Linked DNA regions of Homo sapiens: region 1 is linked to region 2. Evidence: fine-mapped expression QTL. A gene starts in region 2. The other region holds a variant in brackets. All regions are shown on one strand. Distances are from middle to middle.

What was found.
Region 1: its variant is fine-mapped to the expression of PARD3 in whole blood (INTERVAL, PIP 0.98).

Annotation. Positions count from the first base shown.
Region 1 is chr10:34,735,908-34,752,180 of GRCh38, reverse strand. The region is part of intron 1 of PARD3 (par-3 family cell polarity regulator); the gene reads left to right. Among named protein-coding and RNA genes, the nearest start is that of PARD3, 71 kb to the left of the region's middle. RefSeq lists an enhancer at 14,393-14,893. The variant C/T (reference allele first, on the strand shown) is at 7,337.
Region 2 is chr10:34,805,533-34,819,936 of GRCh38, reverse strand. PARD3 (par-3 family cell polarity regulator) reads left to right here and starts at 4,641. Exons shown (of 25, transcript NM_001184785.2): 1 at 4,641-5,061. The coding sequence starts at 4,942. It overlaps PARD3-DT (PARD3 divergent transcript), which reads right to left and starts at 4,169. Exons shown (of 2, transcript NR_108043.1): 1 at 4,136-4,169; 2 at 3,515-3,817. RefSeq lists silencers at 4,293-4,342, 4,433-4,602, 5,123-5,402, 10,142-10,436.

The sequences.
Region 1 (16,273 bases), 69 kb after region 2:
GCAGCAACCTTAGAAGCTGGGTTTTTCTCATCCCACAGAAAACCCCCCCACAAAAATACATTGTTATTCTGTAAGAAAATATGACTAAATTATCATGTACTGAGAAAAGCATTAGGTTAACAAATTAGGAAAACTATGTCTTAGATGTACAACCAACTTTACTTCCCGTTCTCTGGTGGGCAGGCCTATACAAACCTACTCGCAAAGTCCGAGGAAGCTGAGAGGCTAAAGAAAGAGGCTCACAATTCCAGTTTCTCATAAAGAAACATTTAGGTTAAGGTGAGGTGGCCCAGGTTGGTAATCCCAGCACTTTGGGAGGCCAAGGCTGGAGGATCACTTGAGGCCAGGAGTTTGAGACCAGCTTGGGCAACATAGCAAGACCTCATCTCTATTAAAAAAAAAAAAAAAAGCTAGACAGGCATGGTGACATACACATGTGGTCCCAGCTACTTGAGGGGCTGAAGTGGGGGGATTGCTTGAGCCTGGGAAGTCGAGGCTGCAGTGAGGTATGATGGCCCCACAACACTCTAGCCTGGGTCATAGAGCAAGACCCCATCTCAAAAAAAGAGAGAAAGGTTTAATTGGGACTTAGGAACAGAAGCCACGTCTGTGTCTCTGCACTACCCCCAGACCCAGGGCTGATACACTGTGGGGAAAGGGTGACTCTGAAGGGATGTGTAGGACAATTAAAGTACTATAATGTCAAGGTTGTTTGACCTCTGGGCAGTGCCAGCTCCTGCAATAGATAAACGGGAAATCTTAGAGGCCTTCCCAGAACTGGGGTTAATCAGAAGTCAGCATGGCAGATTAATATCTGAGATGGAGTTGCTTTGGCCACTGCACCTCTCTGTCTTATAAGCATGGAGTATCAAGATAATTGTTATTTTGACCCAAATCATCAGCACAGCAACCAATTCCATTTATTAGGTAATTATGTACCAAATACGAGGCTATTTTTTTTTTTATTACATTTAATACTTGTAACAGCTCAGTTGAGGGTATTATCCCCATTTTGCAGCTGAATGGATGGACTTAATGGGAGATAAGCAGCTTCCCTGAGACACATCAACAGTGTGTGGAAGTGACGGGTGTGAACCTGGTTCTGTCTGTTGGCAAAACCTGAACTGATCTCTATGCCTCCCACTCCTAATATACAGTGTAAGAGAGTGTAAATAAAACATATTCTTAGGTCATCTGGGCGCGGTGGCTCACGCCTGTAATCACAGCACTTTGGGAGGGTGAGGCGGGAAGATCACTTGAGGTCAGGAGTTCCAGACCAGCCTGGCCAACATGGCAAAACCCCGTCTCTACTAAAAATACAAAAACTAGCTGAGTGTGGTGGTGTGTGCCTGTAATCCCAGCAACTCAGGAGGCCGAGGCAGGAGAATCACTTGAACCCGGGGGGCGGAGGTTGCAATGAGCCAAGATCGTGCCACTGCACTCCAGCCTGAGCAACAGAGTGAGACTCCATCTCAAAAAAAAAAAAAAATTGTTATGTCATTACCAAGAATAATCCAAATTAACATTAAAAATGCATTAACATTTATAAAACTTAATTAGTTCAGAGAAGAAATAAGGCTCCCTGCCCCTAACTCCTCACTCCTCTCCTGTAAATGTAAACATGTAAATTGTGCCTTCTGTGTTGCTTTCCTGTCCTCTATAGTCTTAGGGTGTGTGTGTGTGTGTGTGTGTGTGTGTGTGTGTGTGTGTGTGTGTGTTTGAAAGAGAGAAAGAGGATGTAACTGTAATGGTACTACAAATGTGTCTGTAGCTTTCTAGAAATGGAATTTCTTGATCATTTTATTTTAAAAATAATCACTCTTTTCTGCTTTTGCTTGAAATGTCCTATTTTCCATAGATTAATATATGTTTGACCTTTTCTGAATTAGATATACTGTTTTATTTGTTTTTTTCTCTTCTTCTGTTTTCAATCCCAAACTGGTTTTAATTCTAAAAAGGTACTTCCATATCGTTTTTTGTTTTCATAATTTTTGCGAATTTTCTGCTTTTATTTTCCAAGCTTATGACTTTGACTCATTTTGCCAAAGTGGACCCATCCCATGAAAACAACACAAATTCTGTTAATTTTTAAATTGAGACTGCGGGTTTTGTGTGTGTGTGTGTGTGTGTGTGTGTGTGTGTGTGTGTGTACTTTTTTTGAGAGGGGGTCTCGTTCTGTCGCCTAGGCTGGAGTGCAGTGGTGCCATCTTGGCTCATTGCAGCCTTCGCCTATTGGGCTCAAGGGATCCTCCCACCTCAGCCTCCTGAGTAGCTGGGACCACAGGCGCACACCACCACACCTAGCTAACTTTTTGTATTTTTAGTAGAGATGGGGTTTCACCATGTTGCGCAGGCTGGTCTCAAACTCCTGAACTCAAGTGATCTGCCCTCCTGCCTCTCAAAGTGCTGGGATTACAGGTGTGAGCCCCACTGTGCCTGGCCTTATATATTATTTTAGGAGGGAACTGACATCTTTCAAGTAGTTACTTCTGACTATCCAAGAAGTCCATATATCCGGCAATACATATTAAATGCTCTTTCACTTATCTTCTTTTTTGTCACTTTTTAAAGTTCTGTATACATCATATAAGTTCTATATGTTTGCTAAGTATTTCCTAGGGATTTAAACTTAACATTGCTATTTTCAGTTTTTTCTTATTATGTTTTTTAAACTGGTTATAATTTATATATAGTTTATTATTTTATTATATATTTTTTATAACCTTCATTTTTATAACCTTCAAAACTAATAATCCTCTTAGTTGTATATTAATTCAAGTTATTTTCTTGGGTTTTCCGAGTATGCAGTTTTATTGTGTGCAAATAATAACATTGCCCCCTTTCTGTATTTGTAGCAAACATTTACTTCTCTGTTTAATTGCACTGGCTAGCATTTCCAGAATAATGGGAAATAATCATGGTGTTAGGAAGCATCTAACTACATGCAAGACTTCATCATAATGATTTTTGGTGTCAGGACATCATGGTCTACCATAAGAACATGTGACTGCTATATTTACAATTTTGGAAACAGATAAAGGGAAAATAAAAGCAAAAGTATATGGGGTGAAGTAAGAGAATAGGACTAGAATTTGGAAAGTACATAATGGACAAATCTAGTGGGAGGAAATTGAAGTTGATGGGTTACGCTTCATGCCGTTAGTATTTAACAGCCAGTTGTGCATCAGGTCTGACAGGTGCTACAAAGATAAGGAAGATAACATCCACTGTGAAGGGCCTGTGGCCCAGGGGCACTCTGGGTGTTGATGAGTACAACTGAGGGGAACATCCTTAGTGATTAGTGCAGTGGTAGCCCGAATGTTATAATGTGTCCTGAGTTACAGCGTCATAGGATTTTATTAGAAGGCACCATCACCCACCTCTACTGCTGCAGTGCCTGCACTGCAGCAGGGAGCGGGTGCTCAAGTCTGTCTTCATGAATGAAGCCACTTCACTGTTCCTTGTGGTTCTTGGCCAGTGTTACGGAGGAGGTGAGCCAGGCTTTTGCTGGTAGAGAGAGTGGGAGCAGGGGGGGATGCTGCTACTTGAAGAGTTTGCTACAGGGGGTTTGATTCCAGACTTCAGGGCAAGTCTGTTCTGTCTGAGGTGTGGAGTGCTTACAGAGGAGCGAGGGGTGGGAGGGGAGGATGTGGAGGTGACTGAGAACAGAGCTTCCTTTCCTTTCTTTTTCTTTTTCTTTTTTTGAGACAGAGTCTTGCTCTGTTGCCCAGGCTGGAGTGCAGTGGCCTGATCTTGGCTCACTGCAACCTGCAACCTCCGCCTCCCGGGCTCAATCGATTCTTGTGCCTCAGCCTCCCGAGTAGCTGGGATTACAGGCGCACGCCACCACACCCAGCTAATTTTGGTATTTTTAGTAGAGACAGGGTTTTGCCGTGTTGGACAGGCTGGTTTTGAACTCCTGACCTCAAGTGATCTGCCTGCCTCACCCTCCCAAAGTGCTGGGATTACAGGCGTGAGCCACCACGCCTGGCCAAGAGCAGAGCTTTCTAAGTGATGCAGCATGGAGGGGTTCCGGTGGCTGAGATGTGGATTGCAGCCCTTGATGGCTGGCTGACCTAGACACCTCCTCCCGCATTTTCTGCTTTTTCCATGATGTTCCGGACAGCAAAGTGGCTTGTCATGGTGGTAACCCCCACGTCCATTCCTGTGCTCCCTCTCTGCTCCATGGCTGCCTGGGTTTAGGTCTCCTTGGTTAGGAAACTGTCGTGTGACCATGCCCAGCTACAAGGGGAGCCTGGACCAGTGAGTACAAGATTTTTACTTTTCCAGCCGCTGTAGGCAAAGAAAGGCAGGGAGAGAGAGCCTTAGGAGTGGATGCTGAGTCAGCCAGTTGCAGTGTCTGCCCCAGAACCATCCTATAAAAGCCATTTTCAAACTTTATTCATTGTATGTGAACATGTTTCAACATCTTTCACAAGTGGCTTTTAAATCGTTGTTAGTCATGGAAGCTTTGATTAGATGAACTCTTGTGAGGGAACCTGGCATGGTGGGCATACCACGACACCAGCTCTCAGAGACTCAGATGGAGGGAGCCAGGCTGGGTGTCGTGGAAGCCCCTTGAAGCTAAGTGAAGAGGGTATTGGCAAAGAGTAGTTGAAAATGAAAACTTTTCATTTTTAGTTGAGATAAGATGTCAGTAAAAGTTACCACTATGAGGATTTGGCTTTGCATTTAGCGATCCATTTTTGCTTTTCTTTTTTTAAAGTAGGAGAATAATATGTTTTGAACATTTAGAAATGGCCTCTTTATTGAAATACATAACCTTGTGTGGTTTGGGCTGGTGCTTAGATCCTCAAGAAGAATTTCCACATGGAAAACGAATTGCCACCTTAGTCTTCTCCAAAGATGCTGTCTCTCTCTAGAGTGGCTGTCTGCAGCCCCTGCCGCCCCAGCTCCCTTAGAATCGTGGCTCAAATGATATTCCTAATTCCTAAAGCTAAAGGGAAAAGAAAAAAAGCCAAAAAAGCAAACCAGTCAGAAAATGTACATTAGATTTTTACATTGATTTCCAATGTACAAATTTCTGTTCTTTATAATCTTAGCAGAAGCCAGTATCTCAGCAGAAGCAGAAGCAAATATCTTTAATTGAAGATACTTGGTTTCCATGATAAGCAGGGTTTCCACAAAACCACATATGAGAGCAGGAACCAATGCTGCTTTCTCTGCCTTCTAATCCCCGCAGGGAAGGGTCGAGGAGCAGAAATGTGGTGACCCTGAACCCCGGCAGCCTGGGTGTCCACTGCAGAAGTCAGGGTGTCTCGCCTGGGCATGGCTGAAAGATTGTTCTCCAGCTGTCTAGAGGGAGACACGGCTCCCTTTTAGTAAAAATGTCACAGAAACTTATTTATGTTTTATGTTATTTCCAATTGATTTATTAGTAGAAGCAAATAAATTCCTGTTTGTCAGAGGAGATTCCTGGAAACCTAGAAACTTAACACAGAAAGGAAATTGGGTATGTACATAGCTGCTTTTTTGAGCGTCTTTCATAATTTTTTATCATTTAAAAAGTAGTGAAATCAGTGAAGTTGACAATTTTCATTACAGATGCTTGTGATTATTTCTACTTGATATGAAGCTGGCTACAAGTTTGGGCTACTTATGGGCATATTTGCAAAAGTACATAGAATCTTAAATTTGAGACATTTGACTTTCATGGCTTTAATAAATGTGTTACTATTTTAAAATAGTATTAAGAAATTATTATTATATTTAGAGACGAGGTCTTACTCTGTTGCCCAGGTTGAGTGCAGCTGGGTGATCATACCTCACTATAACCTTGAACTCCTGGGCTTAGGCAATCCTCCCGCCTCAGCCTGCCGAGTAGTGGTGACTGTAGGTGTGTGCTGCCATGCCCAGCTAATTTTTTTTTTTTTTAATTTTGTAGAGACAGAATCTCACTTTGTTGGCCAGGCTGTTCCTGAACTCCTGGCCTCAAGTGATCCTCCTGCTGAGATTACAGGTATGAGTCACCGTGCCCAGCCAAGAAATTATTTTTGATAGTAGAGTTATTGTTTAGTGGCTTCTTTGTTTCTTAATTTTTTTTTCTTTTTTGTTTTTTGAGATGGAGTCTTGCTCTGTCGCCCAGGCTGGAGTGCAGCGGTGCGATCTAGGCTCACTGCAGGCTCCGCCTCCTGGATTCACGCCATTCTCCTGCCTCAGCCTCCCGAGTAGCTGGGACTACAGGCGCTCGCCACCATGCCCGGCTAATTTTTTGTATTTTTTTAGTAGAGGCGGGGTTTCACCGTGTTAGCCAGGATGGTCTCGATCTCCTGACCTCGTGATCTGCGTGCCTTGACCTCCCAAAGTGCTGGGATTACAGGCGTGAGCCACCGCGCCTGGCCGTTTCTTAATTATTTTCTAAGAATTACTGTGCCATTTCCTTTACATAGTATGGACTATAGTGGCGTGATCATGGCTCAGGGCTCACTGCAGCATTGAACTCCTGAAATCACTTGTAATCCCAAAGTGCTGGGATTACAGGCATGAGCCACTGTGCCCAGCTACAATTTTTTAAGCAATAGAAGGCCTGTCCACATTGCCGAGTCTTCCTTTGGTGATGGTTCATCTGAGGATTGCATGCCCAAAGCCCTGGAGTGGGAGGCTTAGATTCTTATCCTAGCCTTTCCTCCAACAGTCGACACCCCAGAGCGTGTGTATTCATTTCTTTCTTCCCTTTCTTCTCTCTCTCTCTTTCCCTCTCTCTTTCTCTCTCTTTCCCTCTCTCTTTCCCTCCCTCCCTTCCTCCCTCTCTTTCCTTCCTTTCCTTCCTTTTACTTCCTTTCTTTTCTATCTTTTGTAGATATAGGGTCTTTCTCTGTCATCCAAGCTGGAGTGTGGTGGCATGATCATAGTACACTGCATCCTCCAACTCTTGGGCTCTAGAGATTCTCCTACCTCAGCCTCCGAATATCTGGGACTACAGGCTCATGCTACCAAGCCTGGTTGATTTTTAACATTTTTTGTAGAAACGAGATCTTGCTTTGTTGCCCAAGCTGGTCGCAAACTCCTGGCCTCAAGTGATCCTCCTGCCTTGGCCTCCCAAAGCACTGACATTACAGGTGTGAGCCACTACAACCAGCCTTGTTTTTCTTATTTGTAAAACGATGAGGTTGGTTGCTAGGTTATTGCTGTTGATTTTTCTGGGGTCAGGCCAGAGACTGGGTTCCTGGGAGACCACAGGGTCCAAGGGGTGGTCGAGGATGCAGAGGGTCCTAGTTGCCCGAGCTCCTGGGTGTGCACCCACTTCCTTCAGTCCACTGCAGCTCTTTGGTCCCCTGTGATTGTGATGACCATCTGGAGAGAAGGTTTCTAATCT[C/T]CCCTCTTATCAGACAGGACACTCAGATGAGTCTGTTTTTATTTAAAATTTTGGCATTTTGCTTATCTTGGATTTTTGTGCATCAGTTTTTTTGTTCAATTATTACATTAAACTATTTCTCTTGACTACTGAGATTTTGGTCCTCCCTTAAATTTTGTGTCAGAGGCAAGTGCCTGTAGTCTCACCTCTGTTCCAGCCCTTGTAAACGCTATGATTCCTTGTAGTTTGTCATTAAAAATAGTTATCAAAGCCAAGTAATTTGGAAGTTAAATCAAGAGATTCCAGTGAAACGCTGGTAAGCGATGCCTGTTTATGCTCACTTAGTTGCTGGGCATTAGCAGGTGTAAAAATCTAACAAAAACAGCTGGAAGGCAGACCTCAAAGCTGCTGGCAGTCTCTCCCCTTGGGGACAAAAGAAGCCTTTCAGCTTTTTCATCTTGGAAGGTAAATCATAAACGACCAAATATTGGATTAACTTAGAAAAAGTTTTTTTATTTTTGAGATGGTAAATGTAATATCCTTGCTGTTGAATTCCTCTTCATGGTGACTATGTATTAAAACTGGGATTTTGCATGGAAAATATTTCAAGATTTGCATGGATAATGGCTAATGTACTGTCTGGCTTGTTGCATTTTAACTATAAAATTAAGTTGTTGCGCTATTTATTGTTATTTCTAAGGGACACCATGGAGAGCCATTTGGCCAGAGGGAGATGGGCGGTGAGGAGCGTGGTGACTGGTCTAGTTGGCACAGCTGAGATTTTTGCTGCTCTAGTAGTCATCTGGATTGGCTCAGGCCTGGCTGTTTGTTGCTTCTTTCACGGGCTCAGAGTGTCTGGAGATCTTTTTAACTAGCCGAGACATGCTGTTACTCTGAGCAATTCTCCAGGCAGCCATGAGTGCAAAGGGAGTCTGTGCCAGGTGCCCAGCACTGCTATATATGGCAGAGAAGGGTGGCAGGGGAGGACCCACCATGCCCTTATCTGGGGGCTGCAGCCAGGCGTGATTGTGGGGGCAGTCACACAGCTTCCGTGTGCTCTCAGACCAACCCTGTTTTTCCTCTCCCTCCTCCAACCTTGGCATTGATTTTAGACAGCCGATGTGCAGGTTCAATCTTCATGTGAAATGGAACAATGACTTCAAGTTCAGATACCCATCACTGGCAGTGCTGTATGTACAATCTATCAAGGCTAGTTAGGATGTCTTTGTGGCTCGAGAAAGCAGATTTTTAGATACGGGAGAGTTTGGTTACTTGTGTTTGTGATTCTGTGCTCTCTATTAATTGGCATGGGATTTTCGGACCTGAAATTTAGTGTAGATTTCAGTTTATTCTGAAAGATAAGTGTGAGGTTGAGATGTGGTCTTCTGTGTGACAGGTGCTGATTTATGTTGGAGTCCTATTAGGATAGATGCGTCCCACATTCAGTTGTATGTTTCTTAGGTCAATCAAAGAAACTGATCTGAAGGTGTACCACCACCTTCTCTCCCAAGATGACAAAGCTGTGTTGGGTCATTGGTTGGGAGCAGTGCAGATGAGAAGACAAATGCTGTTGACAAGTTGTGTGTCTAGTTCCTTAGGAAACCAGTCACCTGGTGTTGAAGACAGCAGCAGAGGAGTACCGTGGCCTAGCATGGAGCTCTGCCATGCCTTTGGTTCTTTCTGTGGACACATTTTCATGGAACCTAGAGATTTTCTGGTTTGGGGAAGGATACAATGGAAAAATAATTATGAGATGATGATGATAAGATTTAATTGAATATTTGCTAAGTCCAGTGCATACTATTAGGCCTTCAACATATGAATTTATAATCCAATGAATTAGATATTACGTTCCTTTCTTACAAAAGGACATTGAGGCTTGGCGATATTAATAAATGGCTGAGTGGTACTTGGCACCCAAGACCGTGTGACTCCGAAGCTCCTGCTTTCAGTGAAGGAGCCTGTGGTAGGAACATAGGGTCTGCAGTTTCAGATGTTGTGGCCTGCTGTGCCTTGTTGGTGATTGTAGATTCTTCACGATCAATATGGAGAAGGCTGCCTGCATTGTCTCCCTTCTTCTTTTGAAAAATTAGTTTTTACAGATAATTGCAAACAATGCAAAATTAAGGAATGCAATCTCTTTTTGACGTTTTACTCCCTAGTAGTGACTGGTATTAAAAAGCCTCCACGCAGTACAGGATGTGGGTAGATCAACCCTGGATTGGTTGGTTGGGATGTGATTCATTAGATCATCTATGAGATTCTCTGTTTTTTAGGTCAGAGTAATTGCCATTGATCTTATGATGCAGTTCTGCTTCCAGGACACTTAATGAACACGGAAACTGAAAAGTAAAGAACTTGGCCTGTAGGGTCTGTGAGACGGGACCACCCCTGGGAGCCGTGTTGTGTAGAGGCCATCCAGCCAAGGACTGCAAACGTGGAGATCTGTTGTGGCAGTGGATTGGATTAATCTCTATTAATCAGTCTATTAATCTGTTGATCTCTAGCTGAACAATCTCTTTTGTTGAATTGTTGCATTATGATATTTATCGTGACTACTGAGATTTTGGTCCCCCCCTTACATTGGTGTCAGAGGCAAGTGCCTCTGATCTCATCCCAGTTCCTGTCCTTGTAAACTCTGTGATTGTTTGTAGTTTGTCATTAAAAATAGTTATCAAAGGCAAGTAATTTGGAGGTTTAATTGAGTGGAGGAAACTTGGAAGAACCAAGTTTCAGTAGCATGTAGCTATCACGTGAATTTTCATCCTCCCAAGGTTGTGCTGGGGAGATTGAGACAAAAGAAGTACAAACACCTTGAAAACTAAATAGGCAGTTCCTGTGCCAGGCAATGGGATGGGATTGTCTCATTGCTTCTGAGTATTGTCGCTGAACCTGATTATTATGAATTTACCTTATTGTTATATTGTACATTTTAAGAAATTTTTAGGTATTTTATATTCTAATGCTTGCAAAATCTGGAATCATCCTGTGAGTTTACAAAAACCAGTAATGGTCTTTTTGAAGTACTTTATCAACTTTTGTTAATTTTTCTGTGTTGTATGTGCTTCATTAACTTCTGTTAGACTATAAGAGATTTCTCAGTAGTGCCTACTGAATCCATACACAATGAGGGACAATAGGATCCCAGGATCATCTGCTCCACAGAAGCAGGTATCACAGTGGCACCGACCAGCATGGGAAGAGTTTTTGTGCTGACAGCAGGGCATTCTCTTTGTTCTGTGGTCCATTTGTAGATGGCTGCGCTCCTCTGCACAGGGGCTGTCGCTTCTGCATGGATTGGTGTCTAAAAACCCCACCTAAATGAGAATTAGATATTCCCTTTCTTCTTTACCCAGAATTTTCTTTTTATAAATAAAAATAGGCTGGGCACAGTGGCTCATGCCTGTAATCCCAGCACTTTTGGAGGCTGAGGCAGGAGGATCGCTTAAGCTCAGGAGTTCAAGACCAGCCTGGGCAACATAGTGAGACTGTACCACTACAAAAAATAAAAAAACTTAGCCAGATGTGGTGGTGCATGCCCGTAGTCCAGCTACTAGGGAGGCTGAGGTGGGAGGATCACTTGAGCCCAGGAAGTTGAAGCTGCAGAAGGTTGTGATCGCACCACCACACTCCAGCCTGGGCAACAGAGTGAGACTCACTCTCTCTCAAACAAAAAAAAAAAAAAAAAAAATTTGGTTTACGAAAACACAGCAGTTGACTTTTCCATAGGCAATTTGTAGGTTTGGCATTTTACTGCCTTTAGAGATGTAGTATTGAGTATAGTCTGTTAGCCTGTTGGTCTGTTCACCCACAAATAGGCCAGTTCCAATTAGCTATAATATTTGTTTTAGGGGGAAAAAGTCTTATGTAAACAAATTATTTGCATTTATACTTTTGTTAAAAGTTGAACTCGAGTTAGTTATTTGAGACACCAACATTACCTGTCTACCATATTGTTCATATAGTGATAGTTCTGTGTAAGTAGACTTTAGTCAAGCTTCACATTAAAAAAAATTTAACCACTGTTTACCCTACTTGGTATAATTAGTAGGCTTTATCAATTTTTTTATGCTGTGAAGTCTAGATCTCAAAAGATATACGTCAATTTTTTGTTGTTCAGAATGAAGATTCTGTCTGAATCAGTAGGAAAAGAGGGGAGGGAACGTGATTTGTTGTTCACATGATATAGAAGAGGCTGGTGAGAGAGGCCTTTGGAAGCCTTAAAACAGCTTGGTGTGAAAGTTAGGGTGCCCTGGGAGCTGACAGGTAGGAGGAGTGGGAGGGGGAGATGGGGGCGGGAGTCAGAAGAACAGCTCAGCTCTGAACACACCTGTTACAGTCCTATCACTCACTGATGATAGAAAACCGCATTTTGTTGGAACGGGCACAGTGATTGTCAAGGAAGTTGTCTTGTGCTACTGCCATGGATTCAAAAGATTCTTGGGTCGTGAAAGAGGTGGCATCAGAAGGATATGTTTGTTGACAGGGAGACCAGATGCACTGATCCATTTTTTATCCTTTTGCCTTCAGAGCATCCTTGTCTCCTTGAATTCACTGCTGTCTCAGAACCCAGGAGGGCTGTCGGAGCCCTCTCCTGCAGCTCAGCTCCCAGGGGGCTCTCCCAGCAGGCTGGGGCTGTCTCCCAGCCGGCCAGCTCTGCTGGAACTGGAGGAGGCAGCCAGCTGCAATGGGACTGCCTCTTTTTCGTCTTGAAGTGGTTTCAGGTTTCCTCCCTTTCTCCTCTTGGGGTGGGGACGGGAGGCTCTCACCAGCTGTCGCCTTTGTGTTTTTCTCTCTCTCCAGCTCAAGTCAGCTGACACCTTTCCTTTCTTCCCTTCCCTTCTCCATGAACTTGCACGGAGTCGCTGGCGGGTCAGTGTGTAGGAGGGTGAACCGTAGCAGCTGTCCTTGCCTTCCAACTCTGGTTCTGCCCTCCTCCTGACTTATCCTTTCTCCCTTTCTTTGACAGAGATAGGGAATATTTTCCAGCAAGCTTCAGAAAACATTCTATGTGGTATGTGCAGAGAGATCCTCTATGCATAGAATCTTGCACAGGATTTAAGAGGTCAGTGCATGGGGCATTTTCTATCCCCTGCTCCCACTTTATTGAATATCATACTGAACTCAGTAGTTTAGGATGCATTCCTAAGTTTAGGGAAAGCTGTGAGGATCTTTTGATTCATTCTAGAACATTCCAAAGCACCACTGAGGTTGCACAAGGTGGTTCATAGCAATAGGACCGTGATGCTTATAGGGCAAGAGGAGGGGATATCACAGGACCTCTGGGACAGAGGGAAGCACTGAGGCCTTCTGCAACTCTGCAACAAAGTTCCTGTGATCCCCTGCCCTCGCCTCTCTCCCAGCACTCCTGGGATTTCAGCATTTTAATTAATATAAGTCAGGTGGACGCTTATCTTGCTGGATTCCTCAGTAGTACTTGATATGGTTGATCCCTTCCTCATTTCTTGAACAGCCCTCTGGTGCGGTCATTCTTTAACATAAACTTTTTATTTTAAAATAACTTTAGATTTATTAAAAACTGCAAAGATAGTAGAGAGAGTGTACCCCTCACCTCATCCTCTTTGCTAATGTCTTACATCACTGTGATGCATTTGTCAAAATGAACCAACGTTGACTTTAACTAAACTTCAGAATTTATTTGCTGTTCACCAGTTTTTCAGTTAGTGTCCTCTTTCTATGCCAGGATCCAGTCCAGAGGGCTACATTGCATTTAGTTGTCAACTTCATTTTATGTAATAAAAACTTTACCTACATTTCAGTGGTTGGTAATTTTGTTTAAGGAGGTGATCCCTTAAACAAAACGGAGAAAGTGAGTTACTTTCTGCTAGCTGAAGTGTTACTTTACATCCATTTGTAAATTTTTGTTCAGATATATCAATCATTACCATTTACTGAACACCCCCATTTGTGCTTGTTCTGGTTTTATGTTTTATGCTACAATGTGCTCTAAACATTTTAGAAATAAAATTAGCAGTACTTTGTGTGAAGTGGCAATAGGCTTCCTCCCCTTGACCCCTTCTGTCCCCTTATTTTGAGACAGGGTCTTACTCTGTCACCCATCCTCCCCCTGACCTCTTCTGCCCTGTTTTTTTAAGACAGGGTCTCACTCTGTCACCTAGGCTGGAGTGCAGTGCGGTGGCGTGAACACAGCTCACTCACTGCAGCCTGGACCTCCTGGGCTTAGGTGATCCTCTCAGTTCAGCCTCTCTGGTAGCTGGAACCGCCGATGAGTGCCACCATGCCTGGTTAATTTTTAAATTATGTGTAGAGATGGGGTCTCCGTATGTTGGCTTTTCTTCCATTTTAATGAGGTATTTTAATGAGGTAGTGATGTGCTGTGGAGCTTATTAAAAATGGGATTCTGAGGCCATGTGAGGTGGCTCACACCTATAACCCCAGCACTTTGGGGGGACCCCAAGACGAGAAGATCCCTTGAGGCCAGGAGTTCCAGACCAGCCTGGGCAATATAGTGAGACTCCATCTCTAAAATAAAATACAAACGAAAATGGGATTCTTCCTGTCTGAGTAGATGGATCTAGTACCAGCTTTCCCAGGACTAGTGGTGCTTATAAAATCCTGATCATTCCCTCCAGCTATCTTATTAGAAGTGTTTTCCTTAAAGTCATACATGCATGTATCATGTAGGATGGTTAGTCTAGCATATGTGTGTTTGTCTTTGGTGGTGGGGCAAGAGTGGGAGAAGAGGAGGTTGTATTTCTTCGTAGGTTAAAATTGGCTTTAAAGACAGAGAAAGAATAGAGTAGAAAATATTCGAGGGTATTGCCTGTAGTAAGACCCATATCCTGTATGAGGCAGTCCAGAGTCTCAGCTTTTTCAGCAAGACGCCCCCATCTGCTGTTGCCTTCTTCCTCCTGGGCCTTTGCCTAATGGGCCCTTTGCTGTGGGCATTCTCAATGGCAGTTCTGAGAACCACCTGCGGGCCCAGGCGTCCCTAGCGTGGTGTGCTGTGTTCTTGTGTTCCTACTTTCCTAGATGTTTCATGCTGGTTTGCTGTGTGTCTTAGTTCATTCGTGTTGCTATAAGAAAATACCTGAAGTTGGGTGATTTATAAAACAACAGATTTATTTCTCACGGCTCTGAAGGCTGGGAAGTCCAAACTAGGTGCCAGTGTCTGGTGTGGGCCTGGATTCTGCTGCTAGGTTGGTGCCTAGCAGCTGAGCACTCACGTGGTGGGGGAGCCGAGGGCCCTTTTCTAAGGCTAATCTCCTTCTAAAGGCACCTCCTCTCTACTGTTGCGTTGGGGATTAAGTTTCAGCATGAATTGTGGAGGGGACACAAATGTTCAAACCAGAGCACTGTGGTTTTGCCTCCCCCAAATAGAATGCTCATTGTGGGAGGGGATAGGATTTTCACCTCTGTGGTAAAATCGGCTCCATAGTGTTGGGCAGACGTCTTTCTTAGTCCTTGTTGGGGTGGAGGTAACCGCACCACTTCAGCTGTCCTTTAAGGCAAAATGTAGCCAAGCACCTGAGTGGAGCTTTTGGCTTCTGACTGTTGTTAGTGGAGAAGTGGGAAATCTTCCTTGCCTGAGCACATAGTTACAGAATAACCCTTGGCTCCTGTTGAAAAGTGAAAGGCACATTGTATGCATGAGATACCTTTGACCTCACCGACTATTTGCTCAACCACCTAAATAAACACCCCGTATTCTTGGGACCAGGTCAATACTGCAGACCCCTGCTTCTCTCCGTCCCCCTTTCTCCCCTTCACCCGCTTTCTCATTTCTGTTTCTGTAACTGTGTCTTGCTGTTCTCAGTTGGGATTGTGGAGCATCTCAACCGTAAAAGGGGAGGGAGACATGAGTTTGTTGCTTCTGACCTTTTGGGATGTCTAAAGTCACCTATTTTGGCCAGGCATGGTGGCTCATGCCTGTAATCCCAGCACTTTGGGAGGCAGAGGTGGGCAGATCACTTGAGGTCAGGAGTTCAAGACCAACCTGGCCAACATGGCGAAACCCTGTTTCTACTAAAAATACAAAAATTAGCTGGGCATGGTGGCGCATGCCTGTAATCCCAGCTACTTGGGAGGCTGAGGCTGAGGAGAATTGCTTGAACCTGGGAGGTGGAGGTTGCAGTGAGCCTAGATTGCACCACTTCACTCCAGCCAGGGCAATAGAGCAAGACTCTGTCTCAGTAAATAAATAAATAAATAAATAAATAAATAAATAAATTAATTAATTAATAAAGTAACCTATTTCCAACATTTTGAAATAACTCTTTCTTCAGTGTAGTTGTCACTTTCTTTATGAACACAGACAGTGGTGCGGATTCAAGTGATCTATTTTTGTTTCATTTCTTTTATAGCTTTGTCTGCTGATGAAAAAAAAATTTAGCTAGGTGTGGTGGCATGTGTCTGTGTTCCCAGCTATTCAGGAGGCTGTTGTGGGAGGATCACTGGAGCACAGGAGTTTGAGGCTGCAGTGAGCTGTGATCATGCCACTGCACTCCAGCCTGGGTGACAGAGCAAGACCCTATCACCAAAAAAAAAAAAAAAGGGCCAGGCGCAGTGGCTCACGCCTATAATCCCAGCACTTTGGGAGGCCGAGGCAGGCGGATCATGAGGTCAGGAGATTGAGACCATCCTGGCTAACACGGTGAAACCCTGTCTCTACTAAAAATACAAAAAATTAGCGGGTGTGGTGGTGGGCACCTGTAGTCCCAGCTACTCGGGAGGCTGAGGCATGAGAATGGCGTGAACCCGGGAGGTGGAGCTTGCAGCTAGCCGAGATCGCGCCACTGCACTCCAGCCTGGGCGGCAGAGCGAGACTCTTGTCTCAAAAGAAAGAAAAAAAAAAGTAACAAGTTTGGTGTGGTGGCTCATGCCTGTAATCTGAACAATTTGGGAGGGCAGAAGGATTGATGACTTGAGCCCAGGAGTTTGAGACCAGCCTGGGCAACAGAGTGAGACTCTATTTTT
Region 2 (14,404 bases):
TGCCTCCAGTCAAGGTGGCCCGCCAGAAAGTGAGTGGCTGAGGTGGCTTTATTCCACTCTGCTGCACATTTGTCTTTAACAGAGTTGAGTGTTAATATCACCTGCTCTGCCAGCCTCCACCTTGTTCTGCCAACTTTCATGGACTTCACCAACAAGCTACCTCATTCTTCAGCTCTGGGACCTGGGAAGGAGGGAGATATTTGACTGGGGACTTGGGCTCTGAGTGGTGGGTCATGGCAAACATGGGTGCTTACTTTCTGCAGGGATGGGCCTTTTCTGGCATTCTGAGGCTGGGTGACACCGGGGCTTCTAGAAGTGGTGATCTCAGCCTGGACTCAAGTTTTTGCAAAGTGGGCTCTCTCAGCAGGGCAGTGCTGACATACCTTCCAGCAGTGTCTGGGAACCAGAACAGGAGAACGAAAATGCAGAGAAGGGCCAGGCATGGTGGCTCACACCTGTAATCCCAGCACTTTGGGAGGCTGAGGTGGGTGGATCATTTGAGGTCAGGAGTTTGAGACCAGCTTGGCCAACATGGTGAGACCCTGTCTCTACTATAAAGTATAAAAATTAGCCGGGCGTGGTGGTGCACGCCTGTAATCCCAGCTACTTGGGAGGCTGAGGTGGGAGAATCCCTTGAACCCGGAAGGCAGAGGTTGCAGTGAGCCAAGATCGTGCTACTGCACTCCAGCCTAGGCAACAGCAAGACTGCATCTCAAAAAAAAAAAAAAAAAAAAAAAAGGCAGTGGATACTTTGGTGATGGTTGCTGATGGACTGGTTGAGGGCAACCCTGGAATATTTTGAAGGGGGCTCTATTTGGGCAGGTGAGGACTTGGATATGTATTCCCAATGTGTCATGAAATTTTATGAATTACAAAAAAATTTTCATGAATTTTGACTCAAGACACCAAAGGCTCTGGCATCTAGAATTATGCAGTACTAGTTTTTCATCCATTATTAATATAAACGGAATCACTGCATCTAGATAAACTAGGTAGATTTAAATACAGCTGTAAGGCTTTATCTGGTTGGTGGAATCAGTGTTATTAATCCTCTGGATCATATTTTTTAAAAACATCCATATCCTTATTAGGTATTGAATAGTTAAAGGAATTGATGTACATAAAATGGTATCCACATATCCTGATGTCATCTCTGTTATGAAAGCTTCCCCCTTCTCTAGTACCGCCATAAACACTTTGCTGGCACTGAATATTTAATGTGTTGAATTATAGTTATTGGAATAGCTATCTTATTCTGACCTCTAGATTGTCCTTCTTTTACTCACCTTTATAATTCTGTAATATTTAGCCAGTGCTTCCTGCAAGGAAGGTCTTTACTAACTGCATGTGGAATCAAATTTAAGTGAATTGAGTGCAGGCCTGAGAGTCAGAGCTGGAGTTTTTGGTTGTAGTCCTAGCCCAGTCACTGGAAAGTTGTATCACCTGGCTAGTCATTTCTTTGAGCCTTGGTCTTCTCCTGTCCTCCTCATCTCTCCTGCCTCCTCCACTGTCATCATTTGCTATCCTGTGCTGGACTTTGTTACCCTCTGCCTTCATTACGGTAACTGGACTGTACTACGCTATACATTCCCATGTGGCAGCGTGGCAGCATGTACTGTTTTTTTTTTTTTCTTTTGAGACAGAGTTTCATTCTTGTTGCCCTCGGCTCACCGCAACCTCGGCCTCCTGGGTTCAAGCGATTCTCCTGCTTCAGCCTCCCGAGTAGCTGGGATTACAGGCATGTGCCACCATGCCCGGCTAATTTTGTATTTTTAGTAGAGACGGGGTTTCTCCATGTTGGTCAGGCTGGTCTCGAACTCCCGAGCTCAGGTATCTGCCCACTTCGGCCTCCCAAAATGCTGGGATTACAGGCGTGAGCCACCATACCCAGCCGTACTGTTTTCTGATACATTATTTTATTTAACATTCATAACTTATGACCAGGTGCCGTGGCTCACACCTGTAATCCCAGCACTATGGGAGGCTGAAGCGGGAGAATCGCTTGAGGACAGGAGTTCAAGACCAGCCTGGGCCACATAGTGAGACCTTATCTCTACAAACAATTTAAAAATTAGCTGGGCATAGTGGTATTTGTCTGTAGTCTTAGCTGCTCTAGAGGCTGAGGAAGGATTGCTTGAGCCTGGGAGTCTGAGGCAGCAGTGAGCTAAGATTGTGCCATTGCCCTTTAGCCTGAACAACAGAGCAAGACTCTATCTCAAAAAAAAAGAAAGACTGACTCATAACCTATGAGATCTATGAGATGGATATGGATATGATAAGCTCTACTTCTCTACTTTTCAGCTGATAAAACGGGCTGGAGAAAGAGTGACTGTTGTGTCTAAGGCACTAGTAAGTGGCCAAATATGGATCTGAACCTAGATCAGTGTGATGTCCTATGTACTCTGGTTATTACTGAAAAATGACTTTCGATTAGAATTATTTTGAGAAAGCCCCACTCTAATTTATTATACTCAAGCTAGTATACCCCTCTGAACTAGTGTAGCATCAAAACTAGTATACATTCTCTGCCGCGCGGTGGCTCACGCTGCAATCCCAGCACTTTGGGAGGCTGAGGCGGGCGGATTGACCAGCCTGGCCAGCATGGTGAGACCCTGTCTCTAACTGAAAATACAATAATTAGCTGGGCGTGGTGGCGGGCACCTATAATCCCAGCTACTCGGGAGGCGGAGGCAGGAGAATCATTTGAATCCAGAAGGCGGAGGTTGCACTGAGCCGAAATCACGCCACTGCGCTCCAGCCTGCGCAACAGAGCGAGACTTGGTCTCAAAATAAATAAATAAATAAATAAATAAAAATAAATACATAAATAAATGTAAAAAACACAAAATAAAATAAAGTAGTATACATTCTAAACTAGTAGTATACTCTCCCAATGCATGAAAACAGAAACAACACCTATAATTATCAGTAATTGTTGTTGTGGATCCAAGTATCTATGTAAGAAGCAAAAAACCCACATCAACAGTTGTTGTCATCGTTGTCACAAACTTAATTACTGGCTAGAAATGTCTAGTGCTGCAGCCAAACAGCAGTAGGAGGAGCCTTTCCCATGGCTGAGTGGAAGGAGGGAAACCTAGACTATTTCTGGGTCTGCCTTGAGCTTTCTCTGCCGCCTTGGGCAAGTGACTTTGGCCCTGGGTCAATGTCCTGGAGTAAGATGGGGCTAACACCACTGCACTGATTTGCTGGGACAGGTGGTGGAAAGTGGTGGTCCAGGGCTGGGAGAGGAGAGGAAGGGCAATGTTTCCTAGGAGAAACTGCACTATGCTGGGGCAGCTGCGGTGCTGCAAAGCGCAGGGAGTGTGGCAAGCGGACGAACCTCGTGTCTTGTTTCCTTGTTTTAAGATTGGAGGTGGAGTGGGATGGATGGTCGATCGCCAGCTCTTCCAGCTCTTAAGTGCTCAAGTTCTGCGCCAACCCAGGGGAGCTTGATTGCTTTCACGTGTCTTGGAAACAACTGGCAAAAAAGAATTTCACATAGTCTGGAAAGGGCTTGGGACAGGGACCACTCTTTGCAGACATTTGTCATTCTTTAAACATAATGACATACATTTATTAAGGACTCATAGTCCATAACTAAGACAAAATGAGCTTCAGTTACGTTCCCTAACTCGGTCCACGTTCCTTTAGAACGTCTCAAGCCCGCATGTCACTCATCGCGGAGTCGCAGCCTTCCCCTGGGTTCGGGCGTCTGCGTTAAGCGCCGGCACATCGTGGGGATCCCCGCGTGAGATTTCTCTGCGCCGTCGGAATAGACTGTTCACGGATTCGCGTTAGGATTCCTTATGCTGCAGAACTTCAAAGAAATAAATGTATCAGAATTGCGATGTTTAAGTTCTAATCTATTTAAGCGGGTGGGTCAGCAGAGGGTCAACAGGAAACTTCAAGGTAAATAGTGGCCTCTGGAAAAGGCCCGGTCGCTCACGGCTTCCCCACTGTCTCCCCAGAGCAGACTATTAATTCTTGCGTTTCAGGCAGAACTGCCGCTGCCGGCCCTGCAGCAGAGCTAGGGAGCGGGCAGGGCAGAAACCCAGCCGAGCAAGCTGCAGGCTCGAGTCCCCGCGGGCGGAGAGGCTCGGGCTGGAGCCTCCGGGGCGGTGAGGAGGGGACTCACCGCACTGAGCACAAACTGCTTTCCCCGGGAGCGCCTGCACCCAAAACCCTCCAGTTCGAGGAATGGGATTAAAAGTGACAAAGAAAGGGGAAGGGGGGCTCCGTGGAGACTTCTGGAGGCGTGGAAGGGGCGTCCCCGAGGAGGGGCGACGCAGCCCTGCAGGGTGCTGGGCGGGCGGGGTGAAGGGGGCTGGGGGGCGCCTGGGCCAGGGCTGGTGGGGGCAGACGGCCGCCTGCCCGTGCTGGCACTGGGGCGAGGGGTCCCGCGCCCCCGGAGGGAGGGAGGGAGGGAGGGAAGGAGGGAAGGAGGTCGGCCCCCGAGGGCGGTGGCGGGGGCGCGAGCTGCGGTCCTGCGCTCCGCCCCGCGCGGGTAGCCGGCCGCGCCTCCCCCTGCCGCATGTGCGCGGTGTTGTGTGCCCTGCCCTGCTCCTCCCCCTCCCCTCCCCTCCCCTCCCCTCCCCTCCCGCCGTCCCCTCCCCCAGCGGCCCCGAGCGAGCGCCAGCGCCACACAGCCCCGGGCAGCCGCCGGCGAGCGCGCCGCGACGCCGAACAGGTGGCCGGAGGCTGCGGGCGCCGCGGCGGGGAGAGGCGAGGCAAGCCCCGGGCGAAGCGAGGCGAGGCGAGGGCGGCCGGGCCGGGCATGCGAGCTGAGCGGCCCCCCGGCGTCGCCGCCGCCTGCCCGCGCCCCTAGCCGCCCGCGCGCCCGAGTCCCCAGCGGCTCCTCCGCGCCCAGCGTCCTCGGTCCCGGCCTCGGCTGCTCCGGCTGCGCTCGGCGAGGGGCGCGGGCCCGCCCGCGGCGGCGGCGGCATGAAAGTGACCGTGTGCTTCGGACGGACCCGGGTGGTCGTGCCGTGCGGGGACGGCCACATGAAAGTTTTCAGCCTCATCCAGCAGGCGGTGACCCGCTACCGGAAGGCCATCGCCAAGGTGAGGGGCCGGGGGCGCGGGCGGGGAGGGGGCGGCGGCGGGGACGGCGCCGGGATCAATATGGCGCTTCCTGGAAGGGGGAGGAGAGGCGCAGGGAGGCGGGGAAAGGGAAAGTGCGGCCGGTCGGGCCTCGCGGGCGCCCCCCGCCCCGGACTGCGGGCGCCAAAGTTCTCTGCGCGGGCCGGGGCGCAGCCTCTGGGACACCCAGCCGGGTCCCGCGGCCCCCGCCCTCACCCTCCGCCCGGGAGCTCCGGCCTCGGTAGCGCGGGGCGAGCCGGGCAGCGGCGCATAGGCCGGCCCTGGGCGCCTCCCCGGAGTCTGCAGACCCAGCCAAGCCCCGAGCCAGCGCGCGGGGGGCGCAGGCCGGGAAATCCAGCCCCAGGCCTTTCCCGGCTCCCAGGCCCCGGGGGCACAGGCCGGGGACTGGGAACTTTTGGTGTGAGGAGAGTTTCGTGACTGCCCTTCCGACAGAGGCGGGTTGCGAGCCTTCTGCCTCCTCTCCCTTACTCGGGCGGGGGCGGAACAGCGGCGGGGGGCTTTTCCTCCATGTCCCCTGCTGGTAGGGGCCGGCAGGGGCGGCCCGTCGCGTCCGGGGGCTGCAGGGTTTGGGGAGTCGCCGGCTTGGGGTCGGGGAGGCGTTCCCGGGAGGGCCACCGCTGGCACTTGGCACTCGCTTGCGAGCATTTACTGAGCTGATCCCACTTGCTGGGCTCTGGAAAGCACAACCTTGGAAGAGTCGCGGAATGAAAAGTTTTCCTGCGAGGACCTCAGCTCCTACCTATCCCGGGCTGGTTCCATGTGGCTGGGCTGCGGGGCCGGGCCTGACTTGGGAGTTGAGTGGATTTCCCTTTTTCCTGGTGGACTGATAACATTGTCTCCACTTCACAGCATTCCTCTACTGTGTGTCAGAAGTGAAAAGGCGTTTTGTTAAATTGTTTTACCGACTGTGTCTGTGTTTGACAACAGCCCACGCTGAAGTTTCTCCCAAGCACCCGGGGATATATTTCCTTTGTAGTAGAGTCCTCTTTGGTGGGGAGCGCATTCGTTTGGGTGCAGTATTTCCCATTTGTTCCCGACAGTGGCCTGGCCCCTGTGGGCTTGGGGGCTGCAAATGACGTTGGAAAGTGGCTTGGTCAGCCCTATTGAGCGTACACAGGGTACTCCGGTGGCATCTTCAGTTCTCTCAGAAATTAAGAAGTAAAAGCTTTTTAGACTTTTGTTTTGCTTTTAGTATATATTGGAAAAAATAGCATAAATTTGGCCTTTTAAAGATAATTTTGGGGGACGTTTGGAGACCCGACACAAGGATGGAAGACGTTGGCTTTAGTAGCTCTGTTATGTTCCTTACAGTTGAACTCTTTTATTGAAAATCAAATAAAATTAGTGGGAATTGGGCACCTGTTTATCTTGCAAAGCTGACAAAGGGAAAGAAAACCATCTAAATGGACATTTAGCATTTTTAAGTGTTGTTTATGTGTGACAGTTTATGCTTTAAATGTTCCAAAAGAGTACTCAAATTGTTCAGGCACTCTGGAAACCAACAAAACAAATTGTGCAAGGAAAGAGAAATAAAGTAATATGCACTCTGCAGTACGTCTAGGCTCCTGAATAGGAAGAGGGTGGTCAACATTTTCTTTCACTTTACTAATTTTATGTGATTAAAATTGTTTTACCTACTGTGTCCCATGTTTCATCCTGCACAAAATAGACATAGGCTGAACTGCCTGTTTGGCAGTAGTTCAAATGTAGTTGTTCCAGGCATTCGTTCCACAGAAATTCTGAAGCTTTGACTGTGTCCATGGCACTGTTCTGGGTGCTGGACATCTAAGGGACCCACTGGCTGTGAGAAGCTGAGCAAGAGGCTGCGGGGTCCTCCAGGTGAAGGAGCTGGTGATGACATGGGGAGAAGAGGTGGCCTCTGGGATGCTGGGTGGCTAGAGTGCAGGGCCTTGGTCACGGACCTGGTCCTTATTAACGATTAGCAGTGGTTGTTTCACAGGGCGTAGAAAAGGGAGTGCAGTTTTTTAAGGGTGTCTGGGAAGGTGTCACAAAGAGAAAAGGGGCCTATGAGCTGAAGGAAGGGAGGGTGATAGTGACATGGGAGTTGGAGATGAGAGGGAGGGTCAGAGATGGGTCAGGGGTTCCAACACTTACATGCTCTTTAAGTACAACTTAGAGTTCTGTAGGTGAATTTTAACGGGGGCTTTGCAGTATACCAAGTTCAGTCATTGGATCCCAAGATTGTTGACCCTTAAATGTTGCCAGAGCTGGAGTGTCTTCTAGGTCTCCTTTTTCTCGTTTTTCTTCTGAAATTGCTAGACAATGATTAAGATTAATTTTTAGTCTTTCTTACTACTTTTCCCATTCTATATTAAGTGATGAGGAAGTGTTAATATGTATTTAACACTGTTTTAACTTTTATTCTCTATCTGTTCCTTATCCGTATTGCCTAATAGAACAAGAGAAATTCTGTGTGAAGAATTGGGTGGCTGGATAGTTGTGGAGTGGTGTTTAGGTTGCTAGGTGACATGTGGCTTGATGAGCTCCCATCTGGTGGGGAAAAGTGTGGGCAGATCATGTTTATGGCTTTGGATAATAACCAACCAAGCCAAAAATAAAAAATAAAAAGGAAAAGAGAAAGGTCCCAACTCTCAAATCACCAAGGCTTTCTCTGCAGTAAACATTTTCTGGTGTGGTGGGGCTAATTTTCTGGCATTGCATGTGAGCTGTTTTCTCTTCAGATTACACAAATCAATTTTTCTGGATAGTGAAGTGTCATGATTTAATACTAGACATGTCCTCAGTGAGTAGATATTTGAAGGCTTATGCTTAGTCATGTGTGACATTTCTTTTTTCCTCTCCTGAAAGATGGTTTTGTGGTTGTGATCACTGATGGTTGGGAATAGCTGTTCATCCTCATCCACCCATCTGCATTAGGAGCCTCGCTGAGGACAGTGCGGTGCTAGACATTGGGAACCGCGTTACATGGACCGTTCTCATGAGGGCGCAGGATGGGAGGATGGACCGTGTCTGCATCTGTTCTTCTGCGCTTGCGACCTGACACGCGTGATTCCAGGTGGACATGGTGCTGAGCTGCAGCGCTGTGTGGGGTTGGTTGAAGGGCTGCTGTGTATAAAAAGTCATGCTCTATGAAAAAAATATAAGACTGAATTCGTGCAATTTTCAAAAAAAAGTATAATCTAGGAGACAGGAAGAATATATAACAGTATAAATAACAGGAGGTGGTAGCATTAATTGGCACCACTGTGATACAGTCAGTAATCGCTTCTGGATTTTGGAGGTGGGTGCTATCATTATGGGGTGTGTGTGGGAGTCTCATTTAGTCACTAGGATTTGAACTGGGCTTGGTTGGTGGGAAGGCTGACCTTGATATAGGGCAGTGCTTGCTAACTGGGTGAGGCACCTGCCTGCAGGGGCAGATGGGCTCTGGGTCTGAGGTCTGCAGTTGGGGTCTAGGTGTGTGAATCTGCAGAATGTCTGCTACGATTCTGATAAGTGAAAGGGAGGGCATTCCAGGAAGGCAGTATGGACAAAGGCGATTCAGGCATTCAGCCCAGGGGGTCAGGATCAAACTGAGGAGGACAGAATGCCAGGGCAAGACCCTGAGACTTCGTGCAGTAGGAAGGACTGTGGTGTTTAGCTAAGAGTCAGGGTAACAAGTAGTTCTAGGAGGATGACCTGAGCAACCTTAGATGAGGTTTGGATGGATAATTCCTTAGCATTTCATTCTAAATAAAGGTTGCTGAGTGACCAAAAGGGGAAGGAGAGAGTGAAGGGCAAAAGTGAGGGCAAGGAGGTGCTGGAGCCCCTTTGCTCACTGTTCCCACCTCCCTCATAGCTCTCCTCTCAGCCTGTAGGGGAGCTTTGGATTGGGTTTGGTGACTTAGGTTTACAAGCCATTTAACCTTGGGTATAGGGGAGCTTTGTATTGGGTTTGGTGACTTAGGTTTACAGGCCATTTAACCTTGGGTACACCAACCCTACGGAGCCCCATTATCTCAAGTGGAATATTCCCTGGCAGGGTTAATGTAAGTATTAAACAGGATGATGAGAGGGAAACTCTAAAGTCCTGGGCCCGGCCCATACTAGCTGCTCCGTAAAGATGAATGGAATCACCAATATGTTTTATCCACCAAGCAGTTTTACACCCAGGGAACTTTCCCAGGTGTCCCACTATTGCTGCTTGGATTTTTCCTGTTTACTTAAAAACGCAGCATGTAATTTCATTGAAGGATAGGTAAGAATGTGAGATTGAATGACGTGCAGCACCACAATCAGGAGAACAAAATTGTGTGTTGCATGTGTGTATGGGCTGGGGAAGTAAAAGCTGCGGGTATTGGCTTGATTACAGGTTGATTATTGGGGCCTCTGGCTTCTGTCCCCAAGCACATCACTTTAGAGTGATTTAATAGCAACCTGTTGTTATTACAGGTTGAGCATCCTTTATCCAAAATACTTGGGACCACACAAGTATTTTGGATTTTTCTGGACTTTGGGATATTTTTGTATATATAATGAGATAGGTTGAAGATGGAACCCAAGTCTAATGTATTGTTAGAATTTATGTTTCCTACGTACCTTATACACATAGCCTGAAGGTAATTTTATGCAGTATTTTTGTGCTTGAAAATAAGTCTGTGGTAAGTACTTACATGTGGAATTTTCCAGGTGTGGCGTCATGTGGGTGCTCAGTAAGTTTCAGATTTTGGAGTATTTTGGATTTTGGATTTTTCAATTAGGGATGCTTGACCTGTATTTTTTAAAAAGTTGAGCTCATGGACAGAAACTTTTGAAAATGTGCTTTTTTGGTGGCGGGAGACTGTTGATTAGTAACAATGACAGTCATGGTTTTTATGAAAAATCTTGTGGTTGGTATGGAATTTTTCTGTGAATAAATGTATGACTGCATGTTATTCATTTACAAGCGTATTGAAACTTTTAAGAAAATAGTTGTACTGTTGCAGAGATTGAAAGAAAATAGAGGCAAGCATAAAAATAGTGAAATGAAAGCAGCTTTATTTATTTATTTATTTTTTTAACATTTTCTGCCTTCCCTCTAAAAAGGAAAAAGAAACTAAACATTTTTGAAAGGCTGATCTTTCCAGAATTCAAGTCACATTGTCCTCTGGTGCTGAAGCGCCTTTGTCCCGCGTTCTCCAAGTCCTGCCTTCTGAGCACAGCCTGTCCCTGTAGGGACCCCTCTTGCCTTCCAGCCACTCCCTCTGCAGCTGCTCCACCCCCTGGGACTCACATACACTTTGCTGCCTCTGTTCTGGCATTTTCTGTTTCTTCTGCCTGGGACATTTGCTCCTTCCTTGCACTCATTCGTGAGTCTTAGCCCAGACAGCCATCTCCAGGAGGCTGGCTCTCCATCCCAAGCTGCTAGAGGATCTTTCTCCCTGCCTGCTGCCTCTCCTGGGGACGTCCTGGGTGTAGCTCCTGTACCGACTCAGATGCTTGGGCTGTGCTGTGTGGTTTTCAAGTGTATCCGTGCGCCCTTCCTCCCTCCGGGTGAAATGCTTGAAGCGGTGGCTGAGCTTCAGTCTTGGTGAATAGCCCGTGTCTGTCACATTGCAGTCAGAATGTTGAGTAAATAGAAAGCTGAGAATCAACATGTTACACTGCTCTCACACAAAAAATACACTTCTGCTGAGAGGACTATCATCAGCACTCGTGAATTTAAAGGACTTTAAGGTTTGGTGTGTTTGACCTACTGGCACAAACAGCTTGTAATGGAAACTAAGATTTAATGAGGTTTGGAGTACTTGGAAGTTACTCTTTCGTATCAGCTGTCTTGAGGGAGTTCAGTTTGTTTTTCAGCTCAAGCAGAGGACCCTCCTGGGATTCGCCTTGGGCGAGGTTCAAGGCAGGTGGCCAGGGCTGTGTGAGAATCTGGCCCTGGAACACACCTATGCTTGGTCTGGCGCCTCTGATTCCGTCAGTTGAGATGCTTGGCTGAGTGCCAGGACTAAGTAGGAATGTTTAGGATCTGAGATTCTCAGAGAGAATCTGGCGGATGTGAAGCGCTTCTTGGCTTGTGGTAGACATGGATAAATTGGTTGTGGAGGGAATATTTAAAGTCCCACTTGGATGCAAACCCACAGACGGATCCTCCGTCTGTCCTGGGAGGTTCTACCTCCCCACAGAGTTGGGTGCAAGTTGGTGATGTTGAGCTCCCCATAGATGATTAGAGCCCTCGGTATTTTTTATCAAGGATGGAAATAAACATGTAAGATTGGGCCAGAAGGTGCTTTCTATAGGTAATTTTCCATCGGGGGAGATGGCATGCTAAGCCCACACAGCATGCTTTCATCCTGCTTGGCCACTCGCTCAACATTCCTGGCTGGGACCAAGGTCAATGGCAGTAGAGCTGGACATCAGTAAATGTATACAGTTTTACCTGTTTTGGGTACCTTTTCTGTACAAAAGCAAATCTTTATCAAAATAAATGCCGAGTTCAGTGAATAAAGTAGAAAGATGACTGATTTTTTTTTGTCTTTTAGTCATTATTTACAAGTTTTTTCTTTCTTTCTTTTGTTTTTTTTGAGACAGGGTCTTTGTCACCCAGGCTGGAGTGAAGTGGCGTGATCTCTGCTCACTGCAGCCTCAACCTCCCAGGCTCAAGCGATCCTCCTGCCTCAGTCCCCCAAGTAGCTGGGACTACAGTTGTGTGCCGCCACACCTGGCTAATTTTTGTAGTTTTTGTAGAGACGGCATCTCGCCATGTTGGCTAGGCTGATCTCAAACACCTGAGCTCAAGCAATCCACCTGCCTTGGTCCTCCAGAGTGCTGGGATTACAGGCACGAGCCACCATGCCTGGCCTAAATTTTAGCAAATAAGTAAAAATAACTTTGTTTTAACTTATTTAGTAAATAAGTAAACATTTTAGTAAATAAAGTTAAAATAACTTTCGTGTATAGGTCTGTGCCTTCTTGCATCTGGCCTGCTATCTTTACGTGGTTTTTGCCATTTAAATATTACTTTTGTGTATTCCTTTTTTCTCCATCAACTCATATTGGTCCTTGCAAGTAAAATTTCAAGCTCCACATCCAAGTGACTTTAAATATCAATTATTTATTTTTTTCACCTAAACAGAGTATATTTTGTATATAGTCTCTGTACTCTATTCTGTATATATTTTATATATACTCTTTATATATATACACACACACACAAGCACACAAGAGAAATGAAAATGTGTACACAAAACCTGTACATCAGTGTTCATAGCAGCAAGCCCACATATTGTATAATTCTGTTCCTATAACATGACCAGAGTGGGTAGCTCTATAGAGACAGTAGAGTGGTGTTCCGCTAGGACTGGGAGTTTGGAGTCATGGAGACTGTGAATGGGTATGAGGTTTCCTTTTGGGATGATGAAAATATTCTAAGATCATGGTGATGGTTGCACAGTTCTATTCAAGTGTATACTTTCAATGGATGGAGTTTATGGTTATGTGATTATATGTCAATAAAGATGTTAGAAAAATAGACTGCATAAGCCACTATGAACAACGCTCCATTTTTAGGTATTTTGTAGTTCTGAGCATTTCATAAAATGACATATATATGTGTATCAGAGATGCTCAAAACACTTCAAATGAAAACTGGCTGTCTTTAGGAGTTTTCCATATAGTGTGGAATCCCTGCTTTCTCAGGCCTGTCCAATGTGTCCTGTTTAGTGTCTGGTAAGCTCCTGGCTGCTGAGCCTCCAGGTCCCCTGGTCTCTGTGTGCTACCCCCTACCCCCTCTAAGGGCTTCACCAATTGTTCTTTAGCCAGAGACTCCTTCTACCCAGCTCGCCAGCTACCTTTGTGCAGTGGAGGTTGAGAATGCCCCAAGGATGCACGTAATGGACCAGCCTTTCCAGCATTTGGCTTTGGCTCCCAGAAATTTTGAGCTTTGGCAAATCTTACAAGCTCTGTGAGCCTCTGTTTCCCCATGTTCTCATATTCAGAGGTGCTGGGCTGGACTCCCACTGCCAGTTCCCTGAGCTGTGCAGGGACTCCTGCTCTGCATGGTTTGTTTTGGTGCTCATGGGACCATAAGTGATGTGCAGTGGCTTTTCAGATGGTTATACAGGGTCCAGGACCTCTTACTGCTTCCCTCCATGCTGTGAGAATATTTTGCCTCACCCCGACCCCCCCAACTTTGAAATGACGGGGCTTGCTCTCCAGGTCAAATGGATGCTATTCAGAGTTAGGGTAAATTTTGCTTAGGGTTGGCTGGGTGAGAAGGCTCACGCCTGTAATCCCAGAGCTTTGGGAAGCTGAGGTGGGAGGATTGCTTGAGGCCAGGAGTTCAAGACCCAGCCTGGGCAACATAGTGAGACCCCGTCTCTTTTTAAAAAAATTAGCCAGGCATAGGCCGGGTGTGGTGGCTCACGCCTGTAATCCCAGTACTTTGGGAGGCCGAGGTGGGTGGATCACGAGGTCAGGAGTTCGAGCCTGGCCAAAGTAGTGAAACCCCATCTCTACTTAAAGTACAAAAAATAGCTGGGCATGGTGGTGCACACCTATAATCACAGCTACTTGGGAGGCTGAGGCAAGAGAATCACTTGAATCCTGGGAGGCAGAGGTTGCAGTGAGCCAAGATAGCGACACTGCACTCCAGCCTGGGCGATGGGGAGATTCATCTCAAAAAAAAAAAAAAAAAATTAGCCAGACATGGTTGTGTGCATCTTTAGTCCCAGCTGCTCAGGAGGCTGACGTGGGAGGATTGCTTGAGCTCAGGAGTTTGAGATTGCAGTGAACTATGATGGTGTCACTGCACTCCAGCTTGGGTGACACAGCGAGACTCTGTCTCTAACAGAAAAAAAAAATTTGTCTAGGGTGTCCTTCAGAATTTCCTTCCTTCTTCCTTTTTTTTTGTCTTTTTGAGACGGAGTCTCGCTCTGTCGCCCAGGCTGGAGTGCAGTGACGTGATTTCGGCTCACTGCAAGCTCCACCTCCTAGGTTCACGCCATTCTCCTGCCTCAGCCTCCCGAGTAGCTGGGACTACAGGTGCCCACCACCACGCCTGGCTAATTTTTTTGTATTTTTAGTAGAGGTGGGGTTTCACCGTGTTAGCCAGGATGGTCTCGATCTCCTGACCTCGTGATCCGCCTGTCTCAGCCTCCCAAAGTGCTGGGATTACAGGCGTGAGCCACCGCGCCCGGCCCCAGAATTTCTTATTGTCTCAAGGTAAGTATCTTTTAATGTAAATCACATCATGCTCAGAAGTGACTAAGACAATTCCCTTTGTGAATTACAGATGTATGATATTGCATGATACGAACTGTACGGTGTATATATATATATATATATATATATGCACATACGT